Linked DNA regions of Homo sapiens. The protein of the gene in region 1 purifies or fractionates together with the protein of each later gene. This does not show direct contact. Each region holds a gene or a part of one and is shown in the gene's direction. Other genes may lie near its edges. The genes, in order: NCSTN, TOP2B and SFXN1.

What was found.
Region 2: the proteins of NCSTN (region 1) and TOP2B fractionate together in Homo sapiens (co-fractionation; one large-scale study listed by BioGRID). This does not show direct contact.
Region 3: the proteins of NCSTN (region 1) and SFXN1 purify together in Homo sapiens (affinity purification with mass spectrometry; one large-scale study listed by BioGRID and IntAct). This does not show direct contact.

What each region holds. Positions count from the first base shown.
Region 1 is NC_000001.11:160,353,319-160,356,580, forward strand, and holds part of NCSTN (nicastrin isoform 1 precursor), read left to right. Parts: intron 1-4; coding exon of another isoform or gene 5-13; exon of another isoform or gene 14-776; intron 777-799; coding exon 800-972; intron 973-2,336; coding exon 2,337-2,439; intron 2,440-2,544; coding exon 2,545-2,640; intron 2,641-2,941; coding exon 2,942-3,029; intron 3,030-3,262. UniProt on the Homo sapiens protein: Essential subunit of the gamma-secretase complex, an endoprotease complex that catalyzes the intramembrane cleavage of integral membrane proteins such as Notch receptors and APP (amyloid-beta precursor protein).
Region 2 is NC_000003.12:25,623,408-25,627,136, reverse strand, and holds part of TOP2B (DNA topoisomerase 2-beta), read left to right. Parts: intron 1-272; coding exon 273-365; intron 366-462; coding exon 463-577; intron 578-2,333; coding exon 2,334-2,455; intron 2,456-2,691; coding exon 2,692-2,840; intron 2,841-3,390; coding exon 3,391-3,622; intron 3,623-3,729. UniProt on the Homo sapiens protein: Key decatenating enzyme that alters DNA topology by binding to two double-stranded DNA molecules, generating a double-stranded break in one of the strands, passing the intact strand through the broken strand, and religating the broken strand.
Region 3 is NC_000005.10:175,477,060-175,480,659, forward strand, and holds the start of SFXN1 (sideroflexin-1), read left to right. Parts: upstream 1-1,500; 5' UTR 1,501-1,580; exon of another isoform or gene 1,581-1,608; intron 1,609-3,600. UniProt on the Homo sapiens protein: Amino acid transporter importing serine, an essential substrate of the mitochondrial branch of the one-carbon pathway, into mitochondria.

The sequences.
Region 1 (3,262 bases):
CCAGGGCCTGTGAGACAGGGTAAGAGACAGGATTGGATTGGGTGTTGGCCAAAGGATGAACACCACAGCTGTTGTTGCTGCTGGGAAGAATCAGGAACTCAGTGACATTCCATTGGTTCCCTGGACTGGGTAGTTCTCTGATCATTTGTTGCCTAGCAGACTACCACTGCCCATTAAGGATAGGTGAGTGACTAGCTCCCTTCTTGCCTTGCTGCCCCATGGATCCAATTGTCAAGGCTGCTCTACCCAAGTCCTGGCTGTGTCACACTCGCTGCCCAACTTGTCCTCCACTTTCCTCATTGCTTGTTCAAAACCTTCCCTTCCCTCTAGGTCCACCTTTAGGCCTGCTTTTTTCCAGGTGGTCCTCTTTCTGCAATTCCAGCCTTCAGCATCATCCCTGCTCTGGACTCCTGTAGCATTTAAAGAATTGGTTATCTGTTTGGCATTCAGCACGCAGTTTTCTATTATTATTTGCTCCCTTCAATTCTGCACAATAAATAATAAGTGAAGCATCCACTGAGGATAAAGCAGAGTCTTGAAGACAGTAGAATTTACTTATAAATATGAAAAAAAAGGTCTCTTCTTTATGCCCCAATTTTCTAACTCTAAAAAGAATGGTGGAAGCTACAGGAAATTCAGAGAGCCTTGGTCCCAAAAGGCTTGAGGGATAAAGGTCTACTAGAGATAGGGTAGCTCCCCAAGCAGGGAACTTGAAGTATAGAGCATTTCAGGCCTAAAAGAGACCTCCTGCTTCCCATCCCCCAGCCTCCCATCAGTTAATCTCCCTCGTACCCCCCAGGTGGAGGATCTCCTGGCCACATTGGAGAAGAGTGGTGCTGGTGTCCCTGCTGTCATCCTCAGGAGGCCAAATCAGTCCCAGCCTCTCCCACCATCTTCCCTGCAGCGATTTCTTCGAGCTCGAAACATCTCTGGCGTTGTTCTGGCTGACCACTCTGGTGCCTTCCATAACAAGTAAGAATCACTTGGCCCTGCACCCTCTTCATTCTTGAAGAGAGTCTATTCTGCAGTCTGGGAGGAAGGTCACTGCCCTCCGCTTTCCCACACTACCCCCTCCAGAACTTCAGGTCCATCTGTATTCTTTGCTCAGTGGCGTTTTCACATCTGAACTGAAACCCTTATTTGTTTGACTGGATATTCATCTTAGAAACTCATCCTCACCCTTAGCCCTTTACTGTCAACAATCCTTGGTTATGGTTCCACTGCTCCCTAGCTCTCCAGGGTCCTGAGTTCCTCAGGGTTGCCAGCAGAGGGCATCATCTCAAACACAAGCATGGGAAGGATGGTGGGGGCCCTTTGGCTAGAAGACAGAAAGCAGTCCTTCTCTGGAACTCACCCAGAGGTGCCAGAAACAGTATTCATACTCTGTGAAATGTACCATGTTCTTGCCATGTGGTAGATGGCCATGGTTCAGTGCGAGGGTAAAAGTGCCTCCTATAGCTGATGGGGCTCCAGAGATACAAAGGGTAACTCTGGGTTACCCTTTAACTGCTCCTAACTTGAGGCCTTGGATAACAGGGGACTTCTTACTCAGGCTGGATTGCCAAGCTTCCCGAGGGCCAAATGAGTTTCGTAGTGAAAATGCTTGAGCTCTATTTCTGACCCCAGCCAAGTAGCACCTTCTCATTCATTTAGGGGAGTGACCGTCCTAGCACTTAGGGTCAGCTGTCTTCTCTAAAGCTATCCTTGTACCACTTTGGGGCAAGTGAAGATTCATCATTTGAACACATTTTGGATTTGATTATGTAGCTGACTTGACTTTGTGTGGGACAGGGATTTACTGATGGTAAAGACTGTGGAGCTCAGCCTCTCTTTTAAGATCTATCTCCTTGGGGCTCCATAAGGATCATCATGGTGATTTTATCAGTGTATTCTTATATATCAGTGAGCAGACCTGATCCTAAGACCTGCTAATCACCTCCTGCTCCCAGCTACCCTAAATATAAATGTTCATTGGAACAGTTATACAACTGATCTCATGATACATGGCAGAGTTCTCTGAAAATCATCTTAGCCATCCCCCATATCTCCAGCCCAAATGATGTAGAAGAGTCTCTCCTTTGTTTAAAGATCTGAGCTCATTCAGCTTTTCTACCTTGTCTGTCAGGAAAGTCTTTAATTTTCACTAACCACCTCACCCTCACTCCTACCTCCCTGTTCTCCACACCTTCTGCAATATGGGATCCTGATTGTCTCTCACCCCTTTCTTCTGATGCTGAAAATGAGATACTGAGTCCCTGCATAAGGAGCATTTGAGGGAGGAAAGGGGCAGAGCCCTGGCTAAATGTAGCCAAGGCTCATGCCGGCTTTCCTGGCAGATATTACCAGAGTATTTACGACACTGCTGAGAACATTAATGTGAGCTATCCCGAATGGCTGAGCCCTGAAGAGGACCTGAACTTTGTAACAGACACTGCCAAGGTAGCACTGAGCCAGGCTGGGTGGGAGCCTGGGGCACACAGTGAAGATGCTAGCATTTGAGGATAGGAGAGGTGGGCCATTCAGCCCCCTCCTCACCTACCACAGGCCCTGGCAGATGTGGCCACGGTGCTGGGACGTGCTCTGTATGAGCTTGCAGGAGGAACCAACTTCAGCGACACAGTTCAGGCTGATCCCCAAACGGTAAGCAGATGGGCCCTAGCTCCTTCTTTCTATTTACACAGCAAGCTGTCCCTATCCTCCCTTGCCCTAGTGTCCCAAACCTTGGAATTCCACATGACTGTTGATGCCGGTGAGAATGCCTCATGCCCCAGAGAGCTCTTGGGTGGGCCTCATCTGCATCTTATGAGCCAGCTACTGTCTCCCAACTCCAGTCTATCTGGCCAGTCTGGTTCCTGCCCCATGACTGGGTCTCCACTGATAATTCTTTCCCTGGGCTCCCTTCAAGTCACAGGGTTTTCTCTCTTTACTGTTCCAATCCTAGGTTACCCGCCTGCTCTATGGGTTCCTGATTAAAGCCAACAACTCATGGTTCCAGTCTATCCTCAGGCAGGACCTAAGGTCCTACTTGGGTAAGCATCTGGTGTGGGAATGGGACCCTTAGCTGAGGAAAGGGATAGAGAAAAAGTCTTTTGGTTTAACCTTTATTATTTTTTTTCTTTTTCCTCTCTGTTTTTCTTACCCCCTGTTTTCCTTTCTTTCTTCTCATATTTGATGGATCCTTTTCCATTGCCCTTCTTTCTGGCTGCTGCCAATCTTGGGCTTTTCCTATTTCACCCACCATCCACCCACCAAATCTTCCCTT
Region 2 (3,729 bases), on another chromosome or scaffold:
TATTCCTTTCCTCCCAGTCCTGGTTCCCTATGATAAGTCTCTTTTGAATGCTCAAGCTAGTTAATTTTAATTTTTCCCCCAGATGATGCTGTGCTTGTATAAACTTCTTTAATTGAAAGACCTTAGTTTAAATGTGTTTTTGATTAAAATATTGTAAAATAACCTAATTTTCCAGAAATTAAGAATTAGTTATTGGCCACTTATACATTTTAATTTTGTAATAAAATTTATTTTATTTTTAATGTGCAAAATCGTTACCTGGAATCTTTCAGGCATTTAGTAAGAAGAAGATTGATGACAGAAAAGAATGGTTAACAAATTTTATGGAAGACCGGAGACAGCGTAGGCTACATGGCTTACCAGAGGTTAGTCTTAAAGAGTGGTGACCTGGGGAAAGAAGGAGAGAGAGACTAGAATTCATGCAGTAATAATGATAATATTGCTATATAACTTTTCTCTTAGCAATTTTTATATGGTACTGCAACAAAGCATTTGACTTATAATGATTTCATCAACAAGGAATTGATTCTCTTCTCAAACTCAGACAATGAAAGATCTATACCATCTCTTGTTGATGGTGAGTAATATTTAAAAACCTCATTTTTTAATGTTATTTACTATAGTTTAATTTCATGTACTTTAAGCCATCCTTATGATACATATTAAAATTCTTACTTTAAATCTTGTATATGAAGAGCTTATTCAGAGGAATTTAAGGCCTTTTTGATTTTGCTTTTGTTTTATGTTTTCATAGTGCTGAAATCTTTAATATTCCTTAATTTGAAACTTTTAAACCTTTTCCGAGTTTTTCAGGAAAATTAACTTTAAAAGTCTTAAAGCTTTTGCCCAAGTTGTCTGCAGATTTTCTAAAAAAGTAAAATGGAACTTTGATAATTTCTAAAATATTTATCAGAGATTAAATTTTAAAAAGCTTTTATTCTGTATTACCCAAAGCCTAATGCTTTAACTTAACTTGAAAAAAATTTAGGAACTATTTCTAATTTGAAAAAAATTTAGAAACTATTTCTCGTTAGTTGAAGCAGATTTTGATCTTCTATCTAGAACTTTTTTTTTTCTCATAACCTTTATGAAGTTTGTTGATCTTTGTATTGCTTGGCTTTTCTGGTAATAGCAGATGTTTCTACCTATCCCTCAAGTTCTAGCCACAAATCGCCTTTCTTCTATGAAGCCTTCCTAGCAATTCTACTCTAAATTGGTCTTAGATACCTAAACTTCTATACCAATTATTATGTACCTCTTATTTTACCTTTGTTCATTTTGCCTCTAGAATTAGATTACAAAATTCTTAAAGAAGTTGCCATATTTTATCATCCTCATGTTTTTACCATACTCTGGGTCCAGTATGATTACAGTGATAGCATATACTGAAAAGATTGTTACTGTGCTTATTGGCCTAGAGCCAGGGTGTCTAACCTTTTGGCTTCCCTGGGCCACATTGGAAGAGGAAGAATTGTCTTGGGCCACATGTAAAAATACACTAACACTAACGATAGCTGATGAGCTTAAAACAAAAACAAACAAAAAACAAAAATAATTGCAAAAAAACCAAAAAACAAAAATAATCGCAAAAACAAACAAACAAAAAACCTCATGATGTTTTAAGAAAACTGACAAATTTGTGTTGGGCCACATGCAGCCCACGGGCCACGGGTTGGACAAGCTTGGCCTAGAGCAAGAAGAATGGTAAGGGAGCAGAGTGATTTGCTCACATTGTTTCATGCAATCCTTATGAAAACTATATTAAGAAAGTAATTATTTCTATTACTTGGATGAGGACATAGACTTACTAGTTATTTGCTTAGTCACATGGTAAATGGCCAAGTTGAGAAGAATATACAGATTAGTGAGATTCTAAAGCCTTTATTCTTCACTACCACAATAAATCGCTTTTTATAAGGGTTTTCCTGATGTGGGATACTTAGAATAGATTTCAGGCTCCTTGATGGCATGCTGGCAATTTAGTTAGCTACAAATGGCGTTTTGGTTGTTTGAGTGTTTGGAAACTACTGTTAAAGGAGTTTGGTACCACTAGGTGATTCTTTAAGGCCAGAATGTTGTCTTTCAATTGGCAGTTCACTTTTGGAGTAGATGGAGATGGCATAAAAACATCTTAGTATATACCTGCAGATGGCTTTCTAGGAAAAAACAAACAAACAAAACAAACGTGTTAGTATGTACTCACTTTGTTACAGAATCTCAAGTAACAATTTTACTGGTGTTCTTGAAAAGCAAATTGTATCTTTGCTTTATTCCCCTGAATTGTTACAACTATATCTTGAAGTAACATTTTAAAAGAGCTCTTTTAAAAATAGGCTTTAAACCTGGCCAGCGGAAAGTTTTATTTACCTGTTTCAAGAGGAATGATAAACGTGAAGTAAAAGTTGCCCAGTTGGCTGGCTCTGTTGCTGAGATGTCGGCTTATCATCATGGAGAAGTAAGCATTAAGATTGGAATCAATTGAGAACTGTAATTATTGTCTTGAAGAATGATAATTACACATAGTATTTTTCCTTTAGTAAAGTCTTTGGAAATGTAAAAGAATTAAGAGAATATACAGATTAGTGAGATTCTAAAGCCTTTATTCTTCACTTGGATTTTAATTCAAGTTGGGGAGTAATTATAGAAAATTTAGAATATTAATGTTATGTTCTGCCTTCTTCTGTTGTATAGCAAGCATTGATGATGACTATTGTGAATTTGGCTCAGAACTTTGTGGGAAGTAACAACATTAACTTGCTTCAGCCTATTGGTCAGTTTGGAACTCGGCTTCATGGTGGCAAAGATGCTGCAAGCCCTCGTTATATTTTCACAATGTTAAGGTAAATATTTGCTGATATAATGGTATAAAGTTTGATTTGATTTGGAACCAACTAACTAAATGTTCGATGGAATTATAGCTGTGGAGAGATGTGATTATCTGGTTATTCTACTTAGAAGGTGAATGTTCCAAATTATTTGACCACAAATAGAATGAAGTCTGTTGACCTTAATTTTTATGAATTGTTGGTGAAATCAGTCCTAGTGAATTAAGGATGTTTTTCTCACCAACTTTACTCTTTAGGCTGAAGATGGGTTATGTACTTTATTTAGAGTAATAGGAAATTCTTTAAAAGTTATCAATATTAAATCAGGTAGGTAAGTACATAAGTAAAATAGGACTATTTTATTCTGGGCTTGTAACTGAGAGAAAGATGCATTTGAATAATACAGTTAGGCAAATTTTATTATTAAGCGGATGTAATCAAAATTATTAAAAATGCATTCTCTTCAAAAGATTTGTTTTTGCAGTGTGAAGTTTTTAATTATGTATAAAGTTTTCTTTCCCAAAGCCATGACATTTTTTCATTTGCTTCTTTTTGTTTTCATTAGCACTTTAGCAAGGCTACTTTTTCCTGCTGTGGATGACAACCTCCTTAAGTTCCTTTATGATGATAATCAACGTGTAGAGCCTGAGTGGTATATTCCTATAATTCCCATGGTTTTAATAAATGGTGCTGAGGGCATTGGTACTGGATGGGCTTGTAAACTACCCAACTATGATGCTAGGGAAATTGTGAACAATGTCAGACGAATGCTAGATGGCCTGGATCCTCATCCCATGGTAATTATTTGGAACTTATTATTTATTTAACAAATGATAATGTGTAAACTACAAATTCCCGTCATTTTAGAAAAGTAATGGAACATTTTTATTTTAGAACATATTGT
Region 3 (3,600 bases), on another chromosome or scaffold:
GTCTCACTCTATCACCTAGGTTGGAGTGCAGTGGCACAATCTCAGCCGACTGCAACCTCCACATCCCAGGCTCCAGCAATCCTGCTACCTCAGCCTCCTGAGTAGCTGGGACCATACGCCACCATGCCCAGGTAATTTTTTGTATTTCTGGTAGAGATGGGGTTTTACCATGTTGTCCAGGCTTAAACTTCTTAGCTCAGGTGATCCACCCACTCCGGCCTCCCAAAGTGCTAAGATTATAGGCATGAGCCACAGTGCCCAGCCAAGAAGGGGCGATCTTTTATATATCTTTTTGAGCCCAGCACTTGGCACAGGGTATGGTACAGAGAAAAAGCTAGTTAAACATTCATAGGAATTTGGAGGATGAGGAATAGCACTCAAAATATCTGTGACATATTGCTTAAGTTTTAGAAGTTTTGTTTTTCACGTTTGGATCATTAATCCACCTGGAGTTGAGTTTCATGTATTATACAAGTAGGGATTTGGCTATCCCAGTACTGTTTAATGAATATCTAACCTTTGTCCCCTGACCTGTGATGCCAACTCACAGCAGGTTTCTACATGTGCAGGTTTCTACATGGATGGCAACTCTATTTGGCTCCGCGAGGCTCTTTGTTGACCCCGGAGCAAACACACCACCTTTGTTATTTACCATTGTTTTATAACAAGTTTTGTATCTGCAGGACAAGTCACTCTGCCTTGCTCTTTTCTTAAAAGCTTGTTTGGCTGTTTCTGGCTCTTTATTTTTTTCATGTACATTTTGCAGTCCGCTTGTGCAGTTATAACACACACTCCACCAAGCACACTAGTGTTGTCGAATTTTTTTTTATTGTCATAGGTCATTTGGGAGAGAATTTACATCTTTAAAAATGGAATCTTCCTATGCAATTTATGATGTAATTCACCATTTATTAGATTTCATTTGCCCTTTAAATATGCCCAGGTTACCCACCTGGTCCAAAATACCATGATTCCTCTCCTGGATAACCACAGCATCTGGCTAAACAGCCTCTCTGCCTCCACATCCCCTCCCACGCAGTCTGTTCTCCATAAAGAAGACAGAGTGCGCCGTTGTTGTTGTTGTTGTTTAAGACATAAATCAGGTCGTGGCACTAAAGTCCTAAAATCGCCTTGTAGCGCCAGTCTTGCCAAGCTCCACACTTTAATTGGGTAAATGACTGCGTGAACGGATGCTGGCTACGCCAAGGCCCTGGGAATAAAGAAATGATAAAGAAGCAGTCCCTTAAGGGAAACCCAAATGGAACATAGTGGCCCCAGCCCGCGCAGAGCCCCACACCACCGTGAGGATGGGCTTGGAGTTCCTCTTGGACCCGGGGCGCGGTCGCTAAGCCAGAAGCGGAGTCGCGGGCGCGGGGCGGGGCCTGGACCCGGGCCTGGACCCGGAGGGCGGGTCCCTGGGCCTCGTAGCTCCCGGGCCCGGACGCGCGCTCACAGGCGCGCGCGAGGACGCGCTCCGGGGACGCGCGAGGACGCCGTGGCGGGAGAAGCGTTTCCGGTGGCGGCGGAGGCTGCACTGAGCGGGACCTGCGAGCAGCGCGGGCGGCAGCCCGGGGGAAGCGGTGAGTCGCGGGCGGCAGGCCCAGCCAGGTGGGTGGGGAAACGCGCAGGGGGCCCGGCGGAGGCGCGCAGGCTTGGGCAGGCTCGGGCCGTGCACCCGCGGGCCGGCTGCGGGGAGACCCCGGGCTCGGAGGTCGGAAGCCCCTTTGCGGGCCGGGGATGCCTCGGGCCGGGGGGGGGGTCCCTGCACCTGGGGATCCCTGGCATCCTGCGGCCGGACAACACCACGCTTCCAGCATCCCGAGGCCCAGCATCCCGTGGGCCTCGTCCCCGGTGGGAAGGGCCCTCCGCCGCGTCCCCGCGCGCCTGGCCGCGCTGTCTTCGGCGCCTGCGTGGCGAACTCGCTCCGGGGACACCAAGATGGCTGCCTCGGGGGCAGCGGCAGCCAGGTGGCCCAGTGCCTGGCCCAGCGCTCCGCGCTCTCGGCTTTGCCTCCTGGTGCTGGGGGTCGGAGGGGAGACCACCTGGTTCCTGCCCTAGAACTCGCAATCCAGTAGGGAGGTGATGTGCAAGGAAGTAGATTCTTGGAGTAGTAGTTGGTCCTACAGGGACCTTGCATTTTCACGCTTTTCTCCTGAACTTTCACGTCTGTCACAGGTCTCTAACCTGCCCAGAATGACAATAAACAGTCTACTAAGTGCGTGCCAGGTGACTTAGGTCCATATACTTTTACACTCTTCCGGCCCTGCGAGGTACTGGGTGTTGGCTCTATAATCCACATGAGAAAACTGGGGCTCTGAGAGGTTGAGTGCCCAAGGTCACACAGCTGGCCATCCATAGTCCAAGGCCATCTGAGTCTCAGTCGTAAATACTGCGTTCTCAAAGACGCTTTTCCTTGGCTATGCTGTCTAAAATTGCACCCCCCATCCCCCCACACACCCTTTGTAACACAAACTCTGGGTTTTTTCTCTTTAGTGTCTTTTGTCACTAGTTGAAATTAAAGGTGTTTACATGTTTTCTTCTCCTCATGTGAACAGGGCCTATTTTGTGTTGCTCAGCCTATCTATCCCCTGCGCATAACAATTGCCTGCACCAAGAAGGCCCTCAATGAGTATTTGTTGACTGCCTGAACGAAAAAGCCTAGCTCTGCTTCACTCCAGAGCCTGGGCACTTAGCTGCTCCGTAGGCAACTCTTTTCTGCGCCCCCATAGCTTTTTCCCTGCACATTTCTCACAGTCCTAGTCCCTCTTCTGCGTTGACTTCTAGATTTTGACTTGGGTGCCTTTGGATTCTCCCTTCTTTGTCCATCCCCCTTTTACTGATCTGCTTCAGTGTTCTAGGCATTGTTATAGGTGCCCAGGGAGGATGCAGGTAAATGAGGAGGCTTTGCAGCTCCTACAGCTTCAGACTTGATATAAAAGATGAGAGGGAACTGTTTGGGAGGATGAATGGGGTGGCTACCAAGAAGTTCTGGGACCTCAAGCAGATCCTTTCTCTCCTCAGCACTGAGCAGGTGTCTCACTTTCAAAAATACAGTGTTTGGGCCAGGCGCGGTGGCTCACGCCTGTAATCCCAGCACTTTGGGTGGCCGAGGCGGGCGGATCACGAGGTCAGGAGATCAAGACCATCCTGGCTAAGCCGGTGAAACCCCGTCTCTACTAAAAATACAAAAAATTAGCTGGGCGTGGTTGCGGGCGCCTGTAGTCCCAGCTACTCGGGAGGCTGAGGCAGGAGAATGGCCTGAACCCGGGAGGCGGAGCTTGCAGTGAGCCGAGATCGCGCCACTGCACTCCAGCCTGGGCGACAGAGCAAGACTCCGTCTTAAAAAAAAAAAAATACAGTGTTTGGCAGGGAGGAGCTATCAGCTCCCATCTCAGCTTAGTACGTATTCAGAGGTTAGATTGAGGCTTTCAGGCCACATGGATGTTCAGAAAAGGGATGATATCTGTGGTTACAGTTGTCAGAGAGGACCCTATATGGCAAAGGGTGTCATAATTCAGGATCAGTGAAGTGTTTAGCTGTTCTTAATTTTCTGTAAAAGTTCTATGAAACCCCATGGGGATGGATACAGAAAGGCACCAA